2 linked regions of the Homo sapiens genome follow. The protein of the gene in region 1 interacts with the protein of each later gene in a biochemical or structural test. Each region holds a gene or a part of one and is shown in the gene's direction. Other genes may lie near its edges. The genes, in order: SERPING1 and F2.

What was found.
Region 2: the proteins of SERPING1 (region 1) and F2 form a complex in vitro, tested with the Homo sapiens proteins (one study listed by BioGRID).

The regions. Positions count from the first base shown.
Region 1 is NC_000011.10:57,589,749-57,600,964, forward strand, and holds the start of SERPING1 (plasma protease C1 inhibitor precursor), read left to right. Parts: upstream 1-7,936; 5' UTR 7,937-7,974; intron 7,975-8,462; exon of another isoform or gene 8,463-8,500; 5' UTR 8,501-8,522; coding exon 8,523-8,573; intron 8,574-10,130; coding exon 10,131-10,629; intron 10,630-11,216. UniProt on the Homo sapiens protein: Serine protease inhibitor, which acrs as a regulator of the classical complement pathway. Forms a proteolytically inactive stoichiometric complex with the C1r or C1s proteases. May also regulate blood coagulation, fibrinolysis and the generation of kinins.
Region 2 is NC_000011.10:46,728,964-46,739,139, forward strand, and holds part of F2 (prothrombin preproprotein), read left to right. Parts: intron 1-416; coding exon 417-598; intron 599-10,084; coding exon 10,085-10,155; intron 10,156-10,176. UniProt on the Homo sapiens protein: Thrombin, which cleaves bonds after Arg and Lys, converts fibrinogen to fibrin and activates factors V, VII, VIII, XIII, and, in complex with thrombomodulin, protein C. Functions in blood homeostasis, inflammation and wound healing.

The DNA.
Region 1 (11,216 bases):
AGATTGAACTAAAACATGCACTGTGTTCAATAGCAGAAAAAAAAAATCAAGATCCTGGAAATAAACAGAAATAGGTGGAATACGTCTTCAGAGCAAACTATATAACTGTATTAGTCTGTTTTCACACTGCTATAAAGAACTGCTCAAGACTGGGTAATTTCGAAAGGAAAGAGGTTTAGTTGACTCACAGTTGTGCATGGCTGGGGAGGCCTCAGGAGACTTACAATCATGGCAGAAGGTGAAGGGGAAGCAAGAAACCCTCTTCACAAGGTGGCAGGAAGAAGTGCTGAGCAAAGAGGGAAGAGCCCCTTATAAAACCATCAGATCTCGTGAGAACTCACTCACTATCAAGAGAACAGCATGTGGGAAACTGCCCCCATGATTCAATTGCTTCCACTTGGTCTCTCCTTTGACACATGGGGTTTATGAGGATTACAATTCAAGATGAGATTTGGGTGGGGACACAAAGCCTAAACATATCAACAAGTATATTGAGAAACAGGCCAGGCGTGGTGGCTCCCACCTGTAATCCCAGCAGAGAAACATTAAGGAAGAGCCAAATAGTTGGAAAGCTATAACATGTTCATGGATTAGAAGACTTACTGTTATAAAGATGTCAATTCACTCCCAAAATGATCTATAGATGTAAGGTAATACCAGTCAAAATCCCAACATATTTTTCCCTTTTATTTTGTGGAGCCTGGTAAGCTGATTCTAAGTATATATGGAAATTCAGGGATCAAGAATAGCAGAGATCTTCTTGAAGAAGAATAAAATGTGAGGACTTGGTCTACTGAATATCAGAACTTAAACATGGTGCCGTCACAATTTTTTGTTGTTGTTGTTTTTGAGACAGAGTTTTGCTCTTGTTGCCCAGGCTCAACCTCTACCTCCCTGGTTCAAGTAATTCTCCCGCCTCAGCCTCTCAAGTAGCTGGGATTACAGGCATGCACCACCACACCCAGCTAATTTTGTATTTTTAGTAGAGACAGGGTTTCTATCTCTGCTAACACGTGAAACCCCATCTCTACTAAATATACAAAAAAAAAAAAAAATTAGCTGGGCGTGGTGGCAGACACCTGTAGTCCCAGCTACTTGTGAGGCTGAGGCAGGAGAATGGCGTGAACCTGGGAGGCGGAGCTTGCAGTGAGCCGAGATCATGCCACTGCACTCCAGCCTGGGCAACAGAGCAAGACTCTGTCTCCAAAAAAAAGAAAAGAAAAGAAAAGAAAAGTCTGTAACTGGAGAAGTGACCATGGGGCTTCATGTTCAAGTTGGGCAGAACAAGGAGGGTGGCTCCCTGTTTCTCAACAGGCATTGAGGAACGCAAGGTGAATTTTGGCTTTTCTGGAAGTGGAGCAGGCATTTTTACCCTCAGGAGAGGTGCATGGAAGCAGAAACAGCAGGTCAAAGCAAGGGGCCACAATCTGAATGGAGCCAAATTCACAGCTGAGTCAACAGTCCAAACCTAGCGCTTCCATCTACAGAGCTGGCAACGGAGAATTGGAAACAAAGGCTAGAAATAGAAAGGTAGCAGAGAAAGCAGGTACGCTGCTGTGCAAGAAGTGGAAAAGATAGTAAGTGAGAGGGAAACTTCTGGAACCGGCATGTAGTTAAGGGGATTGGTTTGGGAATCAATCCAAATGTCTCTCTCAGGGTGAGATCAAAGAAATAGTTTGTAATACATCCATACAATGGAATACCGTGCGGCTGTAAGAAAGAATGAGATAGAGCTGCCTGCAGTGACATGGAACAATGCCCATGCTACTTTATTAAGAAAAGAAATTAGGCCAGGCACAGTGGCTCATGCCTGTAATCCCAGCACTTTTGGAGGCCGAGGCGGGTGGATCACGAGGTCAGGAGATCGAGACCCATCCTGGCTAACACGGTGAAACCCCCTCTCTACTAAAAACACAAAAGAAATTAGCCGGGAGTGGTGGCGGGCGACTGCAGTCCCAGCTACTCGGGAGGCTGAGGCAGGAGAATGGCGTGAACCCTGGAGACAGCGCTTGCAGTGAGCCGAGATAGGGCCACTGCACTCCAGCCTGGGTGACAGAGCAAGACTCCCGTCTCAAAAAAAAGAAAAGAAATTATGGAAGAGTAATAATTATGTGTGTGGGGAGAGATGAAGTAGATATGATTTTATAAATAGGCAAATATAAAAGCATACACTCAGAATTATTAACAGCAGTTTTGTCTGTGGTAACTTTTAATTTTGTAAGTGTCTGAATTGTTAGAAACGTTTTGTTTTGTTTTGTTTTGTTTTGTTAGACAGAGTTTTGCTCTTGTTGCCCAGGCTGGAGTGCAATGGCACGATCTCGGCTCACTGCAAACTCCACCTCCTGGGTTCAAGCGATTCTCCTGCCTCAGCCTCCCGAGTAGTTGGGATTACAGGCATGTGCCACCATGTCCACCTAATTTTTGTATTTTTGGTAGAGACGGGGTTTCACCATGTTGGCCAGGCTGGTCTTGAACTCCTGACCTCAGGTGATCCATCCACTTGGGTCTCCCAAAGTGCTGGGATTACAGGCGTGAGCCACCACGCCCAGCCAGAAAAGTTTTACAAAGCACGTATATGACTTTGTAGCAATAACTTTGAAAGAATCATTTAATTTTTTTTTAGACAGGGTCTTGTTCTGTCGCCCAGGCTGGAGTGCAGTGGTGTGATCACGGCTCACTCCAGCCTCGAACTCCTAGGCTCAAGCAATCCTCCCACCTCAGCCTCTTGAGTAGCTGGGACTGCAGGCATGAGCCACCAAGCCTGGCTAATTTTTTTTATTTTTTGTGGAAACGGGGTTTTACCATGTTGTCCAGGCTGCTCTCAAACTCCTGGGCTCAAACAATCCCCCTGTCTCAGCCTCCCAAAGTGCTGGGATTACAGGCATGAGCCACTGCACCCAGGAAAAGAATAATTTTAAAGATCCTTAGAAAAATGATTGAATGGACCAATTTAGAATATCTATGAGGACTCATCAAATGTTTCTATTCTACTCGAAGAAGCTTTGTATTCCTCGGCCTGCCAGGATCTGCAAATAGGGTGTGAGCCTGAGGTTTGGGGATTTTGTGTCTCAACACTTATTTGGATCTCATCTCTGTCTTCATCTCTGATCCCCATCCACCTCCTCATACCAGTTAAAGACTGAAGGGAAGAGGAAGAGAAGAGGGTCGTTAGTGGAAGGGTACTGTGCATGAGGACTCTCTAGTGAGGTTCCTGGGAAGGTCCAGTCCCTGGAGAGCTGGGCAGGAAACAGCCCATGTGAATGAGTCAGGGCTGGTGAGAAAGGGAATCAGTGAAGAAGGTGGGGATACAGTGGGAGCAGGAACCCCCACAGCTCCCTCACTCATGGCTGCCAAACCTGTGCCCTTCTCCGGAGAGGACTACTGTATTTGTAGGAAATAAGGGACAAAGTTCAGCCTGTGGTCCGTTCTTACTTACAAAGCATCAACAGCCCCACGTAAAGGGTGTGCCACAACATAATTCTCAAAATGGTAGAACTGTCATTCTCACACAAATACACAGTGAGAACCTTCACAAGATAACTGTCAGGATGACAAAGTTGGTTCAAAGAATGATTTGAGAAACTGGTGTGTGTGTGTGTGTGTGTGTGTGTGTGTGTGTGTGTGTGCTGGAATAACACAGCTAAGTTACCTACAAAACTGGCTATTGCCCTGCAGGCCAACAAGACTGAAATAGGAGGTAGGACTCAACTCCCGAGGTGGGGCTCAGATACCAACCAGATTGAGGACTAGCTAAAACAGGGCCAGGGCAGAAGCAGTTTTCCATAAGATTTGCCAGCCAGTCCGCCATGTCAGTTTACCATTGCCATGGAAACACCTGGGAGTCACTGCCTCTTTCCATGGCAATGACCTGATGATCCAAAAGTTCTTTTCCCTTCCCTAGAAATTTCTGCATAAACTGCTTCTTGTTTTGTTTTGTTGTTGTTGTTTTGTTTTGTTTTGTTTTTTGAGACAGAGATTAGCTCTTGTGGCCCAGACTGGAATGCAACGGTGCGATCTCGGCTCACTGCAACCTCCACCTTCCAGGTTCAAGAGATTCTACTGTCTCAGCCTCCCGAATAGCTGGGATTACAGAAGCCTGCCAGCACGCCAGCTAATTTTTTGTATTTTTAGTAGAGAGGGGGCTTCACTGTGTTGGCCAGCCTGGTCTCAAACTCCTGATCTCAGGTGATTCACCCAACTTATCCTCCCAAAGTGCTGGGATTACAGGCAGGAACCACCGCGCCCGGCTTTAAACTGCTTTTTAATCTGCATGTAATGGAAAGTGGGTATAAATATGACTGCAAAACTGCCCTGAGCTACTGCTACTCTCTGCCTACAGAGTACCCCTCCTTTGCAGGAGCAGTCACTGAGCTGTAACACTGCCTCTTCAAAAAAACTGTTTTCTTCTACCTCCGGCTTGCCCTTGAATTCTTTCCTGGGCAAAGCTAAGAACGCTTACCAGCTAAGCCCCACTTTGGGGCTCACCTGCCCTGCATCAAGACCATTACCTTTGGGGTTATCATTATCATCTCATTCACATCTCTACCAGACAAAAACCCTTTGCATCTTATCCATTTTTGACAGGTCAACATCTGACATTACAGACTCTGAGCCCTAATCTAGAAAAATAAGAAAGAGAAAATTCTATTCCTCTAGAATAGCATTTCTCAACCAAGATTCCAAAGAAAGGACTGAGCCCTAATTTGCCCAGCGCATTATTTGTTGATAATCAATCAACTTCTCTCCTCTGAAACTAGAGTGGTGCTAGTTGTGTACTATCTGTGGGAGAGTTGAGAAAATAGTCCCTCCAACCATTTTCTGTGTCCCAAGAACGGAGTGACCCTGATTTCTCAGAATTCTTTTGCCCTGTTTCCAAGTTTTGGATAATTTTTCTTTTTTTCTTTTCTTTTCTTTTTTTTTGAGACAGTCTCACTCTGTTGCCCAGGCTGGAGTGCAGTGGCGCAATCTCGGCCCACTGCAACCTCCACCTCCTGGGTTCAAGCAATCCCCCCACCTCAGCCTCCCAAGTAGCTGGTACTACAGTCGTGCACCAGCATGCCTGGCTAATTTTTGTATTTTTAGTAGAGATGGGGTTTTGCTATGTTGGCCAGGTTGACCTCGAACTCCTGACCTCAAGTGATCTGCCCACCTCAGCCTCCCAAAGTGCTGGATTACAGGCATGAGCCACCATGCCCAGCCGAAAAATTTCTCTTAAGAAGGAAAACTAAAGGTGTTTAGTTTTTCACACTCTATAATGTGAGAGAGTTCAGCTACAGCAACTTGTACCTTCAGTATTAGAGGACTCAACTAGGAAAAAACCTGATAAAAATGCTCTGAGTACAGGAAGAGCTTTAGTGAGAACTTGTACCTCATTCAACATCAGGAAATTCACAGGCGAGAGAAGCCATGTGCACCTACAACATGAGGGAAGAGGGATTCTGTGGGTTCAACTCTCCTCAGTCACCAGAAGGAAAGGTCCTTGTTACAGAGAAATCCTAGACCTGCTCCCAGTGGGAAGAGAACTGAATTCACAACCTTACACTGATTGAATATCTCAACATCCACACTAGGGAGAAATTCCGCAAACATCCTGATTAAGTCAGTTTCAGCTCCAGCTTCAGCAGGCAGGGGAGACTTCACAAAGCAGACATCATTTAAATGTGCAGAGTGCAGGAATGGCTTTGGCCAGAGAGCTATTATAGATGGCTGAAGGAGGTAGACCCACAAGCTGGGAAAACCTCTCCACTGGGGCTTTTTCACCCTGGAACTTTGGCCCACAAAGCATCGTACTCTTGCAGCTGTACCCAGAATATTCCCTTTGCTGTCTGCTTCAGGTTAGCCCCTGGTGTGTGTCAATAATTTGTAAGGGTTAATAAAGAACTGTTGGGTCAAACAGACCTGGTCCACATCCTGGCTCTGTCACTTACTGGCTTTGTGATATTAGGTAGATCAATTAATTTCTCTGAGCCTCATTTTAACTTGTTTAAGATGGGATTAATATAGCACCTACTTCATAGGTGATGAGAATTAGTGAGAGGATGAATGTAAATGCATGGTGAGCACTCAGTGAATTAGGTTGCTTTCCACCACCTTCTTTTCCTTTGGCTGACCCATTTCCCAGAATCCACAAGCTCATAGTCCCTTTGAGCCCACCAGCTTGAGCACTGGGGATGGAGAAACGTTGTTTTGTGTGCAGCTGTTCAAACGATGGCTCTGATGTTATATAACTTTCCCATGGTTTAGGAGGTTCCCAAGTGGCTTCAGAGAATAAAGCACAAAGCTGGGGAAGACTCTTTCTGGGTCTTGTCCAAGGACCCCCGAGGAGACACACAAATATTCTCCTGTTTCTGTCCTTGGTCAGTCCCTTAGAGTAGCAGTTCTGGTGCTAGCAGCAAACTTTCCTGAATGCTCCAAACACAGCCAGAGGATAGGCCTGCAGTGAGATGACGATAGAACATGATAGCTATATTAGGTCATCAGAGACAACCTGTTTGTTTTGCAGATGAGGCAGAGTTATCAGATTTAGCAAAAATACAAAATGCCAATTATATTTGAATTTCAGATACACAACAATGACAACAAAATTTATTTTACCATAAGTATATTCCAATGTAAGCATTTTTACCATAAGTATATCCCAATGTAAGTTTTTTTTTTTTTTTTTAGAGACAGCAAGTGTCTTACTCTGTTGCCCAGGCTGGAGTGCAGTGGCATGATCAATGCTAACTGCAGCCTTGAACTCCTGGGCTCAAGGGATCCTCCTGCCTCAGTCTCCTAAAAGGCTGGGATTACAGGTATGAACCCCCAGGCCTGCCTACTTCGTGTGTTTTATCTGGCAATGCTGAGAGGACAGCTAGATGTCGAGGACAGCCAGATTTCGAGGACAGCCAGACGTCAAGGGGGAAAGCAACTTGCTGGCTCACACAGCCAGCCAGGTCTATTGTGGAGCCCTAGTCGCAAACACATACACCCCAGCTTTCAAGTTTTTAAATATTTATTTAGTTAGTTATTTGTTTTTTGAGACAGTCTTGCTCTGTCACCCAGGCTGGAGTGCAGTGGTGCAATTTCAGCTCACTGCAACCTCTGCCTCCCAGATTCAAGTGATTGTGCCTCAGCCTCCCTAGTAGCTGGGACTACATGTGCGCGCCTGCACTGCCCAGCTAATTTTTGTACTTTTAGCGGAAACGGGGTTTCCCCATATTGGCCAGAGTGGTCTCAAACTCCTGACCTCAAGTGATCCACCCACCTCGGCCTCCCAAAGTGCTGGGATTACAGGCGTGAGCCACCGTGCCCGGCTAGCTTTTTTTTTTTTTTTTTTTTTAATTAGGTTGAATGCTTGTTGAGCTGGGTGCCTCACATCCGTTGTCTGTTATACAAAGAACTACTGATTATGGGTCTCTACGAGCAAAAATGGCAGAACACCTACAGGGCACAGGGGAGATGGGAGCAGGGATTAGGCTTCAGAATACTTCTCCAAATGAGGGTGATCAGGGCCCGACATTTCACTGCTCTAAGGCTCAGTATCTTAACTATCAAATGGGTACAATGGGGCACAAAGGGTTACTTTGAGGAATAACGGAGGTGAGCAATTTCCAAAAAGTTCATTCCTTTAAAAACTGCGGAGCACATTTTGTGTACATGCTGTTTTTATTGTTACTCATGAAGACGCGGGGGAAGCTTTGGTTGTGTAAAGCTGAGAACTGCACCCAAGCTTCCCCGTTCACCCCACCTACCAGGGGATTTGGGCTAAATTCCTGGCCTGGCCCACAAAGAAGACCAAGCGGTCAGTCCCATTCCGTCCCATCCTGATTTACAGGAACTCACACCAGCGATCAATCTTCCTTAATTTGTAACTGGGCAGTGTCCCGGGCCAGCCAATAGCTAAGACTGCCCCCCCCGCACCCCACCCTCCCTGACCCTGGGGGACTCTCTACTCAGTCTGCACTGGAGCTGCCTGGTGACCAGAAGTTTGGAGTAGGTTTGGTGCTGGGCAGGGGTGGGGAGTAGGGTGGAAAGCATGGAGTGAAGAGGTCTAGGGAGGGGGTCTCCTCACCCCCGCCTTCCTGCCCGCCTTGATCTCGGGGGTCTCTATAGGCTTGCTTCCACCTGGGACTTCTGCCTCCTCCTACCCCAGCCCCTCCCGCCTCAGGCCTGTTGTGCTCAGCCCCCCAGGACCTCCCCTCCCCCACGCCTCTGGCCTCATTGTTTGGTTAAAGCAGGACCCCCTCCCCCTCCCACCACCTCCCCTCCGACTGAACAGATGGACAGAGACCCGGGCCCACGGGGAGAGGAAGGGCCAGCCGGTGCCGGGAAAGGGAAGCGGTTTGGGGAAAACAAAACAGAGGGAGGAGCCAGGGAGAAGGTGGCCCCAGGAGGGAGGAGGAGGGAATTCGCTAAGAGGGACTGGGGCCTGAGACGGAATGGGGGCGGGCCCCGGGCGGGGTGGGGGCCCCTGGGCTCCCAGGGTGGGAGCTGGCTCCGAGGCTGGCTGGCTCCGCAGGTCCGCTGACGTCGCCGCCCAGATGGCCTCCAGGCTGACCCTGCTGACCCTCCTGCTGCTGCTGCTGGCTGGGGTATGTGGTCCCTTGTGGGATGGGGGACGGGGGTGGAGACGGGAGGCGGGATGGTGCGGGGTGCGGGCGGTGGCTGAGGATTAACCCTTCAGGCTCCGGGGAATGAGGAGAGCTCCTCTTGGGATCATTGAGTGTGATCCTTGCACACGCACTCGTAGATGGTGGAAAGAGCTCAGGACTCAGACAGATGCAAGTTCTAATCTTGGCGGGCCATGTAGGAGCTGCGCAGCGTGGTCCTGAGGACGTCACTTTTCTCAGCCTACTCCTCCTGATTTATAAAATGTTGAATAAACAGATCCCACCCTGTCCACCAAGCAGGCTTGGCAGGAGGATCACATAGGGCAAGGAGATGGGAAGCATTTTGTGATATCAAAGCAAGAGTTTGTTGTAGAAAAGAGCTGTGGGGAGGAGAGGTTTGGCTGCTGTGACACAGACGGTGGTCCCAGGCTAGGGCCTGTGAAGACAGGGAAGAATGGTAGCAAACATACGTGGGTCTGGGTGGGGGTCAATAGCAGTGAGAGGTCCCAGTGGTCTGGGAGGTCATGGACTAGAAATAAGGCTAAGAAGTGCAGGATCCCAGGAGAAAGGTAGGTAGGGGTGTGTGTATGTGCGTGTGTGTGTGTGTGCACGCGCAAGTTGGTATCACATACTCAGCAGATGATGTAGTTATGAGCAGGGAGTTTGGAATCAGAGACCTTGTTTTGACCCCTAGCTGTTTCTCCCATTTCTGTGAGACCCTGGACTAGTTAATATGTGTCGGTATGAGTTTCTCTACCTGTGAAATGGAGCTAATGCGTGGTTTCTCAGTGGAGGATCTGTTGACATTGGGGCTGGATAATTCATTGCTGAGGGGCTACCCTGCGCATTTTAGGATGTTTTGCAGTATATCTCTAGCCTCTACGCACTAGATTCCGGTAGCATCTTCCCTGCTGTCTCCCTGTGACAACCAAAAATGTCTCTGGACATTGCCAAATATCCCCTGGGAGTCAAAATTGTTTCAGAGCCGCTGGCCTATACTACTTCTCTCTCCCTCCCTTCCTGCCTCCCTTCTTTCCTCCTTCCCTTTCTTCGTTCCCTTCCTAATGTGTACTGTTTTTCCACACCCACTAATGGGTTGCAACCCACAGTTTAAAAATTTACTGTTCTAAATCAAGGAGCACAAGTTCAAATGTCTGTACTAGCCAAGCAAGTGAGTCAAACAGGTAGATATTTACAGGAAATTGCAAGAACATAGATAAATGACAACACTCAGCTTCACTGTTTGGAAAACAACTTCCTACAGGGCAGTAATTGGTCAGAGATTACAGAGTCCCTGACTATCCCTCATCTTCTGCAGAGCACATTCCTGTGCACCCCCACCCTCACCCTGTATTGCCCCTTCTCTGAGGAATTAGTGGTGGTGGTTCTAAGACAGATTGCTCATCTGCCGCACTGTCAGAAATTACTCTCTTGTACAGGACATTTTCCACATCCACACCTTCTCTTCCTGCTTTGAGTATTTTAGAGGACTGTGCCTCGTAGTAAGAAAAAAATGAAACTCAGTTTCTTGAACCACAGGATAGAGCCTCCTCAAATCCAAATGCTACCAGCTCCAGCTCCCAGGATCCAGAGAGTTTGCAAGACAGAGGCGAAGGGAAGGTCGCAACAACAGTTATCTCCAAGATGCTATTCGTTGAACCCATCCTGGAGGTTTCCAGCTTGCCGACAACCAACTCAACAACCAATTCAGCCACCAAAATAACAGCTAATACCACTGATGAACCCACCACACAACCCACCACAGAGCCCACCACCCAACCCACCATCCAACCCACCCAACCAACTACCCAGCTCCCAACAGATTCTCCTACCCAGCCCACTACTGGGTCCTTCTGCCCAGGACCTGTTACTCTCTGCTCTGACTTGGAGAGTCATTCAACAGAGGCCGTGTTGGGGGATGCTTTGGTAGATTTCTCCCTGAAGCTCTACCACGCCTTCTCAGCAATGAAGAAGGTGGAGACCAACATGGCCTTTTCCCCATTCAGCATCGCCAGCCTCCTTACCCAGGTCCTGCTCGGTAAGACCCTGCTTGAATTCTCTCCAGGTCATTTGTTGGACACTCCCATAAGAGTCACCAATCCAGACACTTACAAAGCCATGCCTCTGGGAAGAAGCTGTAAAAATGGGCTATTATATATTGGGGGTGGGGTAGAGGGATGTATCTTTTCATTCTTGAACATTCCATCATTTCACAGTGATGTAATAGGCACGATTGCTTGTAAAACTCTGTGACTATACAAGAACATATAAAATAAGGTCGCAGCCACTAACCATGTTTCATGGCAAGGAGAGGTGATAAGAAAGATGAAATTAGGCGCAGTGGCTCACGCCTGTAATCCCAGCACTTTGGGAGGCCAAGGCGGGTGGATCACCTGAGGTCAGGAGTTCAAGACCAGCCTGGCCAACATGGTGAAACCCTGTCTCTACTAAAAATACAAAAATTATCAGGGAGTGGTGGTGCATGCCTGTAATCCCAGCTACTTGGGCAGCTGAGGCAGGAGAATCGCTTGAACCCAGGAGGTGGAGGTTGCAGTGAGCCGAGACCGCACCATTGCACTACAGTCTGGGTGACAGAGCGAGACTCTGTCTCAAAAAAAAAAAAAA
Region 2 (10,176 bases), about 11 Mb from region 1:
AGTTCTTTTCAGTACTGGCGTTTTATTTTTTATTTATATTTATTTATTTACTGACGGAGTTCCACTCTTGTCTCCCAGGCTGGAGTGTAGTTGTGCGATCTTGGCTCACTGCAACCCCACCTCCTGGGTTCAAGCGACTCTCCTGCCTCAGTCTCCTGAGTAGCTGGGATTACAGGCTAATTTTTGTATTTTTAGTAGAGACTGGTGGGTTTCACCGTGTCGGCCAGGTTGGTCTCGAACCCCTGACCTCAAGTGATTCACCCGCCTCGGCCTCCCAAAGTGCCGAGACCACAGGCGTGAACGTCTGTGCCCAGCCAGCTCTGGCGTTTTAGATTCTGGTCTCTAAGAAATGGCGTTGGGGCCAGGCGGCTCCTGTGGGGGTTGGCTCTCACTAGGCCCTTCTTCCTTCCCCAAAGCTTGCTCCAGGCTGGATACAAGGGGCGGGTGACAGGCTGGGGCAACCTGAAGGAGACGTGGACAGCCAACGTTGGTAAGGGGCAGCCCAGTGTCCTGCAGGTGGTGAACCTGCCCATTGTGGAGCGGCCGGTCTGCAAGGACTCCACCCGGATCCGCATCACTGACAACATGTTCTGTGCTGGCAAGTCTGTGCAGGGCGGGCTGAGGGAACAGTGGGGCCCAAGCTGGGAGAACTGAGTTGTGCCTGGGTTCAAGCCATGTGACTTTGAGCAAGTTGCCTAACCTCTTGGTGGCTCAGTTTCTTCCTCTGTAAAATGGAGGTAAAAGTCTCTATCCCATAAGGTTATGGGAGGGTTAAATGAAGTAGTATATATTAATGTACTTGGCATAGTATCAGTCACCAGTGAGCTCAGATAGCAGCAAGAGGCTGCGGGTAGGGAAATGCCATTCATTCAGTCACTCAGCAAATATTTATTGAGCGCCTATCACGTTCCAGGCAGCGTTCTAGGGTATACAGCAGGGACCCAGACGGACAATGTCTGTGCCCTCAGAGAGCTTCCTTCCTAGGAGGGCACATCCATAAACAGATCTAAAACAGCAATCCCTGACCAGTGCTGTGAAGAAAAATGAAGCACAGGGAGAGAGAACGGCTGATGAAGTGGGCTTCTAAATAGGGTGGCCAGACAAGGTGGGCAGATCACTTGAGGTCAGGAGTTCAAGACCAGCCTGGCCAACATGGTGAAACCCCGTCTCTACTAAAAATACAAAAATTAGCTGGTCATGGTGACGCATGCCTGTAGTCGCAGCTACTCAGGAGGCTGAGGCAGGAGAATTGCTTGAGCCAGGGAGGCGGAGGTTGCAGTGAGCTGAGATCGGGCATCATTGCACTCCAGCTGGGCAACACAGCAAGACTCCATTGATCGATCGATCAATCAATCAATCAGGTGGCCAGAGAAGGTTGGAGAAGGCCTCCCTGAGAAGGTGATGTCTGGGCAGGGACTGGAAGAGGGGAAGGAAGGAGTGAGCAGGCATATCTAGGGGAGGAGCACCGCAGGCTGGGGGCATGGCAGGCACTAAGGCCCTGAGGTGGGAGCACTCTTGGCTTGTCTGGGGAGCAGTAGGGAGGCCTGGGGGGCTGAGGAGGGGCAGCAGTGGGTGAGGGGAGAGAGGGGGGCAGGCAGAGGACAGCCACTTCCTTTAGGGCCTGGAAGGACTTTATTGAGTGAGATGGGAAGTTATTGAGGGGCTTGAGGCAGGTTAAGAAATGATGTGACTGACTTTAAAAGTAAAAAATAAAAAAATTTAGTGTAATTTCAGACTCACAGAAAAGTTGTAAAAATAATACAAAGATTTCCTGTATACTGTCATCCAGATTGTCCTCCATTCTGTGGATGTGTGGGAATTTTTATATATATATATGCATAGTTTGAGAGCAAATCATGAATATGGTTTCTTTTTACCCATAAATACTTGAGTATTTCCAAAAAAAAAAAAAATACCCAAGGATGTTCTCTTATGCAACCACAATACAAATATTAAAACCCGGAAATTTTTTTTTGACATAGCTTCGCTGTCACCCAGGCTTGAGTGCAGTGGCACAATCTCGGCTCACTGCAACCTCCTGCTCCCAGGTTCAAGTGATTCTCCTGCCTCAGCCTCCTGAGTAGCTGGAATCACAGGCATGTACTACCATGCCTAGCTAATTTTTGTATTTGTAGTAGAGACAGGGTTTCACCATGTTGGCCAGGCTGGTCTTGAACTCCTGACCTCAGGTGATCCACCTGCCTCGGCCTCCCAAAGTGCTGGGATTACAGGCGTGAACCACTGTACTCGGCCAAAACCAGGAAATTTTTTTTTTTTTTTGAGATGGAATCTTGCTCTGTTGCCCAGGCTAGAGTGCAGTGGCATGGTCTCGGCTTACTTGGAATTACAGGTGCCTGCCACCACGCCCGGCTAACTTTTTGTATTTTTAGTATTTTTAGTAGTGATGGGGTTTCACCATGTTGGCCAGGCTGGTCTTGAACTCCTGACCTCGGGTAATCCACCCACCTCGGCTTCCCAAAGTGCTGGGATTACAGGCGTGAGCCACAGCACCTGGCCCAAAACCAGGAAATTAATGATGATACAATATTATTGTCTAATCTATAGACCTTATTCAAATTTTTGTTAGTCTTGCTAATGTCTTTTATAGGGAAAAAAAAAAAAAAAAGCGTGTTTCTCACCCAGGATTCAATGAAGGATCTTTCTTTGTCTTCTATGACCTTGACATGTCTGATGAGTGCAGTCTGGTTATTTTGTACACTGGCCCTGAATCCGGGTTTGTCTAAGGTTTCCTCACGGTCAGGTTCGGGCTCAGTGGTGCCATGTCCTTCTTGGTGCATCCTGTTAACTGGCACATGAGAACAATTTGTCTCATATGTGGTGAGTCTAACTCTGACCTCTTGAGGAAGGCAATGTCTGCCAAGTTTCTTGCTGTAACTTCTGTTTTTCCCTTTGTAATTAATAAGAATCTGGTAAAGAGACACTTTGATGTTTTTTTTTTTTTTTTTTTTTTGTGATGGAGTCTCCCTCTATCACCCGGGCTGGAGTGTGTGGTGCGATCTCGGCTCACTGCAACCTCCATCCCCCAGGTTCAAGTGATTCTCCTGCCTCAGCCTCCCAAGTAGCAGGGATTACAGGCATGTGCCACCACACCCAGCTAATTTTTGTATTTTTAGTAGAGATGGGGTTTCACCATGTTGGCCAGGATGGTCTCGAACTCCTGACCTTGTGATCCGTCTGCCTCAGCCTCCCAAAGTGCTGGGATTACAGGTGTGAGCCAATACGCCTGGCCTACTTTGATATTTTGTATTCTGTTTGCATCAAAACCTTCTCCCAACTAGGGTGACTACCAAATGGCACTTATCTAATTCTGTCATTCCTTCTACATTTGTTAGTTACTTTATTGCTTTCCTTCCTTTCATTCTATCAGTGTGGACTTAAGGATCCTTACTTTATTCTAAGGGTTCACCTTTTTTTTTCTTTTTTTTTGAGATGGAGTTTCGCCCATGTTGCCCAGGCTGGATGGAGTGCAATGGCGTGATCTCGGCTCACTGCAACGTCCTCCTCCCAGGTTCAAGCAATTCTCCTGCCTCAGCCTCCTGAGTAGCTGGGATTACAGGCATGTGCCACCACGCCTGGCTAATTTTTTGTATTTTTAGTAGAGACAGGGTTTCACCATGTTGGCCAGGCTGGTCTCGAACTCCTGACCTCAGGTGATCCGCCCGCCTCAGCCTTCCAAGGTTCTGGGATTATAGGCGTGAGCTCTACCGTGCCAGGCCATACTTTGTTACTACTGTTATTTTTTCTGATGCTCAGATGATCCCAAGTTTGGCCTGTGGAAGTCCCTTCAAGCTGGCTTCTGTGACTTGGGGAGATGTTCTGTCATTCTTTGAGTACTTTCTTTCTTTCTGGCACAGCAAAATGATTCAGGTTAATCCTACTTTCCTTACTGTAGTGTTGGAACCAGCCATTTCTCCAGGGAACCCTTGTAGTCAAGAGTGGAATTTAGAACTGAGATCTGGGTGCTGGCGTGTGCACATTGCTAGTGGGATGTCATTACTTCTAGGCTCTCTTAGTGGACAGAACCAGAAAAAAATTATATGATGCATATACCAATATCTCTATCATCTATATAAAAAACCATGAGTTCCTACTGAAACCTCCAATTCCATTCTAACACCACAGGATTAATTTTAGCTTTTCCTTTTCCATATTTGTAACTCTCTCTGTTGACAGTGAGAAACCTGACCCTCATTATCTGTAATGCATTTGCCTATTTGAACAATACTAGAATATAGTTTCAAAATCCTCCATCCATAACACTATTAAAACCAATCCTATGGCTGGGCTCAGCCCACTGCAACCTCTGCCTCCTGGACTCAAGCCAGCCTCCCACTTTAGCCTCCCGAGTAGCCAGGGCTACAGGCACACACCACCATGCCCAGCTAATTTTTGTATTTTTTGTAGAGACTGGGTCTCACTGTGTTGCCCAGACAGGTCTTGAACTCTGAGCTCAAGTGATCCATCCAACTCAGCCTCCCAAAGTGCTAGGATTACAGGTGTGAGCCACCATGCCTGGCCTCTCCTAGTAAATTTTTAGAAGTGGTGTTGTTAGGTCAAAAGGCAAACATGTATGTCATTTTTTAGAGATTTTTAAATTTCTTTCCATAAGGGTTGTACCAGTTTGCATTTCCATCACAGTGTATGAGAATGCCTGTTTCCCCACAACCTTGCCAAAAGAATGTCACAGTTTTAAATTTTTACCAATCTGAGAGGTGAGAAATAGTATCTTGAAATTGTTTTAACGGACATCTTTCAAATTGAAAATGAGGTTGAACATCGTATCATATGATTAAGGACCTTTTTTTTTTTTTTTTTTTTTTTTGAGATGGAGTCTCCCTCTGTCACCTAGGCTGGAGTGCAATGGCACGATTTTGGCTCACTGCAACTTCCGCCTTCTGGGTTCAAGCGATTCTCCTGCTTCAGCCTCCCAAGCAGCTGGGACTCCAGGCGCGAGTCACCATGCCCGCTAATTTTTGTATTTTTAGTAGAGACAGGGTTTTACCAGATTGGCCAGGCTGGTCTCGAACTCCTTACCTTGTGATCCTCCCGCCTCGGCCTCCCAAAGTGCTGAGATTACAGGCATGAGCCACCACGCCTGGCCTAAGGACCATTTTTATATAATTTTTTTTTTGAGACAGAGTCTTGCTTTGTCACCCAGGCTGGAGTGCAATGGTGCAATCTTGGCTCACTGCAGCCTCCACTTCCCTGGTTCAAGTGATTCTCCTGCCTCAGCCTCCCGAGTAGCTGGTTCCACAGGTGCGTGCCTGGCTAGTATTTGTATTATATAATTTTTTTGTGAATTGTCTCTTCATGGTTTTTTGCCCATTTTTTGGTCCCTTTCTTATCAATTTTTGTGAGTTCTTCGTATTTATATTAGGCCTTTATTTGTGATATACATTGCAAATGTTTTCTCCTAGTTTGTCAGTTTTTTTAACCTCATGTATAATTTTTCTGGCCATGCAGTTTAAAAAATTACTAGGTAGTCAAATTTATCAATCATTTATTTTATTAAATCTGGATTTTGAATCAGAGATAAACTTTTCCTGGCCAGGTGTGGTGTCTTACACCTGTAATCCCAGCACTCTGAGAGGCTGAGGTGGGGGATCACCTGAGGTCAGAAGTTCAAGACCAGCCTGGCCAACATGGTGAAACCCTGTCTCTACTAAAAATACAAAAATTAGCTGGGCGTGGTGGCTGATGCCTGTAGTCCCAGCTACTCAGGAGACTGAGGCTGGAGAATTGCTTGAACCTGGGAGGCGGAGGTTGCAGTGAGCAGAGATCGTGCCGCTGCACTCCAGCCTGGGTGACAGAGCAAGACTCTGTCTCAAAAACAAAACGACAAAAAACAACAACAGAAAAGCCTTTCCTGATAGCTAGGTCATTGAGGAATTCACTCATGTTTTCTTCTAGTACCTGATTTCATTTTTCTGCACTTAGATTCCTGACTCATATGGAGTTTATTTTTGTATCTGATGTGAGGCATAGATCTAATTTATTATTTTCCAAATGGCTAACTAGCTGTCTCTAAACCCTTTATTAAAAATTATTGGCCAAGTGCGGTAGCTCACACCTGTAATCCCAGCAGTTTGGAAGGCTGAGGCAGGATTGCTTGAGGCCAGGAATTCAAAACCAGCCCAGACAACATAGCAAGACCCTGTCTCTACAAGAAAATATTGGTCAGGTGTGGTGGCTCACGCCTATAATCCCAGCACTTTGGGAGGCTGAGGCAGGTGGATCATGAGGTCAGGAGATAGAGACCATCCTGGCCAACATGGTGAAACCCTCGTCTCTACTAAAATACAAAAAATTAGCTGGGTGTGGTGGCGCATGCCTGTAGTACCAGCTACTCAGGAGGCTGAGGCAGGGGAATCATTTGAACCCAGGAGGTGGAGGTTGCAGTGAGCTGAGATCACGCCATTGAACTCCAGCCTGGCGACAGAGCAAGACTCCATCTCAAAAAAAAAAGGAAAAAGAAAATATTTTAAAAATTAGCTGGGCATGGTGGCATGTGCCTTGTAGTCTCAGCTACTTGAGAGGCTGAGTTAGGAGGATTGCTTGAGCCTAGGAGTTCAATACTGCAGTGAGCTATGACCGCACCATTGCACTCCAGCCTGGGCAACAGAGTGAGACCCTGTTTCTATTAAAAAAAAAAAATCGGCTGGGCGCGGTGGCTCACGCCTGTAATCCTAGCACTTTGGGAGGCCGAGGCGAGCGGATCACCTGAGGTCAGGAGTTCAAGACCAGCCTGACCAACATGGAAAAACCCTGTCTCTGCTAAAAATACAAAATTAGCCAGACATGGAGGCACATGTCTGTAATCCCAGCTACTCGGGAGGCTGAGGCAGGAGAATCGCTTGAACCTGGGAGACGGAGGTTGCAGTGAGCTGAGATCCCTCCATTGCACTCCAGCCTGGGCAACAAGAGTAAAAACTCCGTTTCGCCAGGTGCGGTGGCTCACACCTGTAATCCCAGCACTTTGGGAGGCCGAGGTGGGTGGATCACAAGGTCAGGAGTTTGAGACAAGCCTGGCCGACATGGTGAAACCCCATCTCTACTAAAATACAAAAAATTAGCCTGGCATGGTGGTGTGCGCCTGTAATCCCAGCTACTTGGGAGGCTGAGGCAGGGGAATCACTTGAACCTGGGAGGAGGAGGTTGCAGTGAGCCGAGATGGTGCCACTGCACTCCAGCCTGGCAACAGAGCGAGACTCTATCTCAAAATCAATCAATCAATCAATCAATCTTTGAACTAGTGATTTGAGATTTCACCTTTATCACATTCTAGATTGTATCTTATTTTCATTTATTTATTTGAAATATAGACAAGTCTCCCTGTGCTGCCCAGGCTGATTTCAAACTCCTGGCTGGGCTCGAGCAAGTCTCCCGCCTTGGCCTCCCAAACTGCTGGGATTACAGACGTGAGCCACCATACCTGACCTAGGTTTTATTTTTTAGTTTTATTTTTTCCTGCATCCAGCTAATTTGATTTGATTTGTAGAGACGGGGTCTTGCTATGTTACCTAGGCTGGTCTCGAACTCCTGGGCTCAAGTGATCCTCCTGCCTTGGCCTCCCAAAGTGTTGGGATTACCAGCATGAGCCACGGTGCCCAGCCCCACGTTCTAGATTTCTATGGATAGAGTATGCTTAAGGATGAGTATGTTTCTGGATGTTCGACTCGGCTTTCCTGGTCTGTTGTCTGTCTGTGTACAGCGTCACATTGTTTTAATGATAGAGGCTTTAGCGTACATAGCTGGGAAGGCTAATGTTCTCTTTTAGTTTTTCTTTCCAGTGGTTTCCTGGCAATTCTTGCATGTTTGTTTTTCCATATGAACTTTAGTGTCAACATGCCTAGGTCTATAAAAAAGCTTGGTGGTAATTTTATTGGGATTATGACACTTCAACAAATTAACTGGGAGAATGGACATATTTTTGATGTTGAGTCATTTTATCCAAGGATAAGAAACGTTTTCCTATTTGCTCAAGTCTATTATTGTATCTTTCTTGACTGCTGCAATGTATTCTCTTATAATTTTTTCTATTGGTATCTTATTTTATGTATTTGTAATATCTTATTTTTCTTGAGTAAATTAGTTAATGGCTTGCCGGTTTTCTCAAAACAAATATCTAGGGATTTGATTTATGAAATTATTAGGCCTATTATTTTTCTTTTTTTTGAGATGGAGTCTCACTCTGTCGCCCAGGCTGGAGTGCAGTGGCGTGATCTCAGCTCACTGCAACCTCCACCTCCTGGGTTCAAGTGATTCTCCTGCCTCAGCCTCCCCAGTAGCTGGGGTTACAGGTGCACGCCACCATGCCCGGCTAATTTTTTTATATTTTTAGTAGAGACGGGGTTTCACCATGTTAGCCAGGCTGGTCTCGAACTCCTGACCTCATGATCCGACTGCCTCAGCCTCCCAAAGTGCTGGGATTACAGGTGTGAGCCACCGTGCCTGGCCTTTTTTTTTTTTTTTTTGAGACAGAGTCTTGCTCTGTCACCCAGGCTGGAGTGCAGTGGTGCGATCTCGGCTCACTGAAAGCTCCACCTCCCGGGTTCACGCCATCCTCCTGCCTCAGCCTCCCGAGTAGCTGGGACTACAGGTGTACACTGCCACGCCCAGCTAATTTTTTGTATTTAGTAGAGACAGGGTTTCACCGCGTTCGCCAGGATGGTCTCGATCTCCTGACCTTGTGATCCGCCTGCCTCAGCCTCCCAAAGTGCTGGTATTACGGGCGTGAGCCACTGCGCCCGGCCAGGCCTATTATTTTTCTATTGTGGTTCATTAATTTCTGCTTTTTTCTCTTAAAAAGTTTGCTTACGTTTTTGTCTGGTTTACTTTGCTGTTCTCTTGCTAGCTTTTTTTTTTTTCAGATAGGGTCTTGCTCTGTTGCCCAGGCTGGAGTGCAGTGGCACAGTCATAGCTCACTGCAGCCTTGAACTCCTGGGCTCAAGCAATCCTCTTCTTGCTTCAGCCTCCCACGTAGCTAGGATCAGAGGTACATGCCACCATGTCCGGCTAATTTTTTTTTTTCGAGACAGAGTCTTGTTCTGTCGCTCAGGCGGTAGTGCAGTGGTGCAATCCCGGCTCACTGCAACCTCCACCTCCACCTCCCAGGTTCAAGCAATTCTACCTCAGTCTCCTGAGTAGCTGGGATTATAGGCGCACACCAACATGTCTGGCTAATTTTTGTATTTTTAGTAGAGACAGGGTTTCACCACGTTGGCCAGGCTGGTCTTAAACTCCTGACTTCATGATCCGCCCGCCTTGGCCTCCCAAAGTGCTGAGATTACAGGTGTGAGCCACAGCACCTAGTGAAGGTGTGGTTTTTTTGTGTAGGTTTTACTGTTGTTAGTGTTGTTCTGTATTGTTTGTAGAGGATACGTGGGGAGATTTGGATAAAAGCAACTATCATTATTATCCTCATCAGACTTGTAGGTCTAACTTTTTAATTTTTTAATTTTTAATTTAAATTTTTTTCTTGGTCTTTTATCATTAATTAATTTTTTCGAGACAGGGTCTCACTCTGTTGCCCAGGCTGGAGTGTGGTGACATGATCACGGCTCACTGCAGCCTTAACCTCCCAGGCGCAAGTGATCCTCCTCTCTTAGCCTCCCGAGTAGCTGGGACTCCAGGCATGTGCCACCATGCCCAGCTAATTTTTTGTAGAGAGAGGGTTTTGCCATATTGCCCAGGCTGGTCTTGAACTGCTGAGCTCAAGTGATCCACCCGGCTTGGGCATGAGCCACCTCCCCTGGTCTGGTCCAACTTTTTAAAAGCATTATTCTGCCTGTTGGGTGGAGAATAGACTGTAGGTGGGCAAAGAATGAAGGAAACTAGTGGGTTCAGGAGCTCGAGCTAGAAGTGGTGAGAAGGGTTTGGATTTGGGGTCTATGCTGAAGGTAGAGCCGACAAGATTTGCTAGGATTGGATGGGTAGGGTGAGGAAGTGGGGACAGCAAGAATGACTGGAGGGGTAAGTGGACTCTCACCAGCTGTGTCTCGTGAAGGGGCGTGGCTGGGCTATGAGCTATGCTCCTGAGCACAGACGGCTGTTCTCTTTCAAGGTTACAAGCCTGATGAAGGGAAACGAGGGGATGCCTGTGAAGGTGACAGTGGGGGACCCTTTGTCATGAAGGTAAGCTTCTCTAAAGCCCAG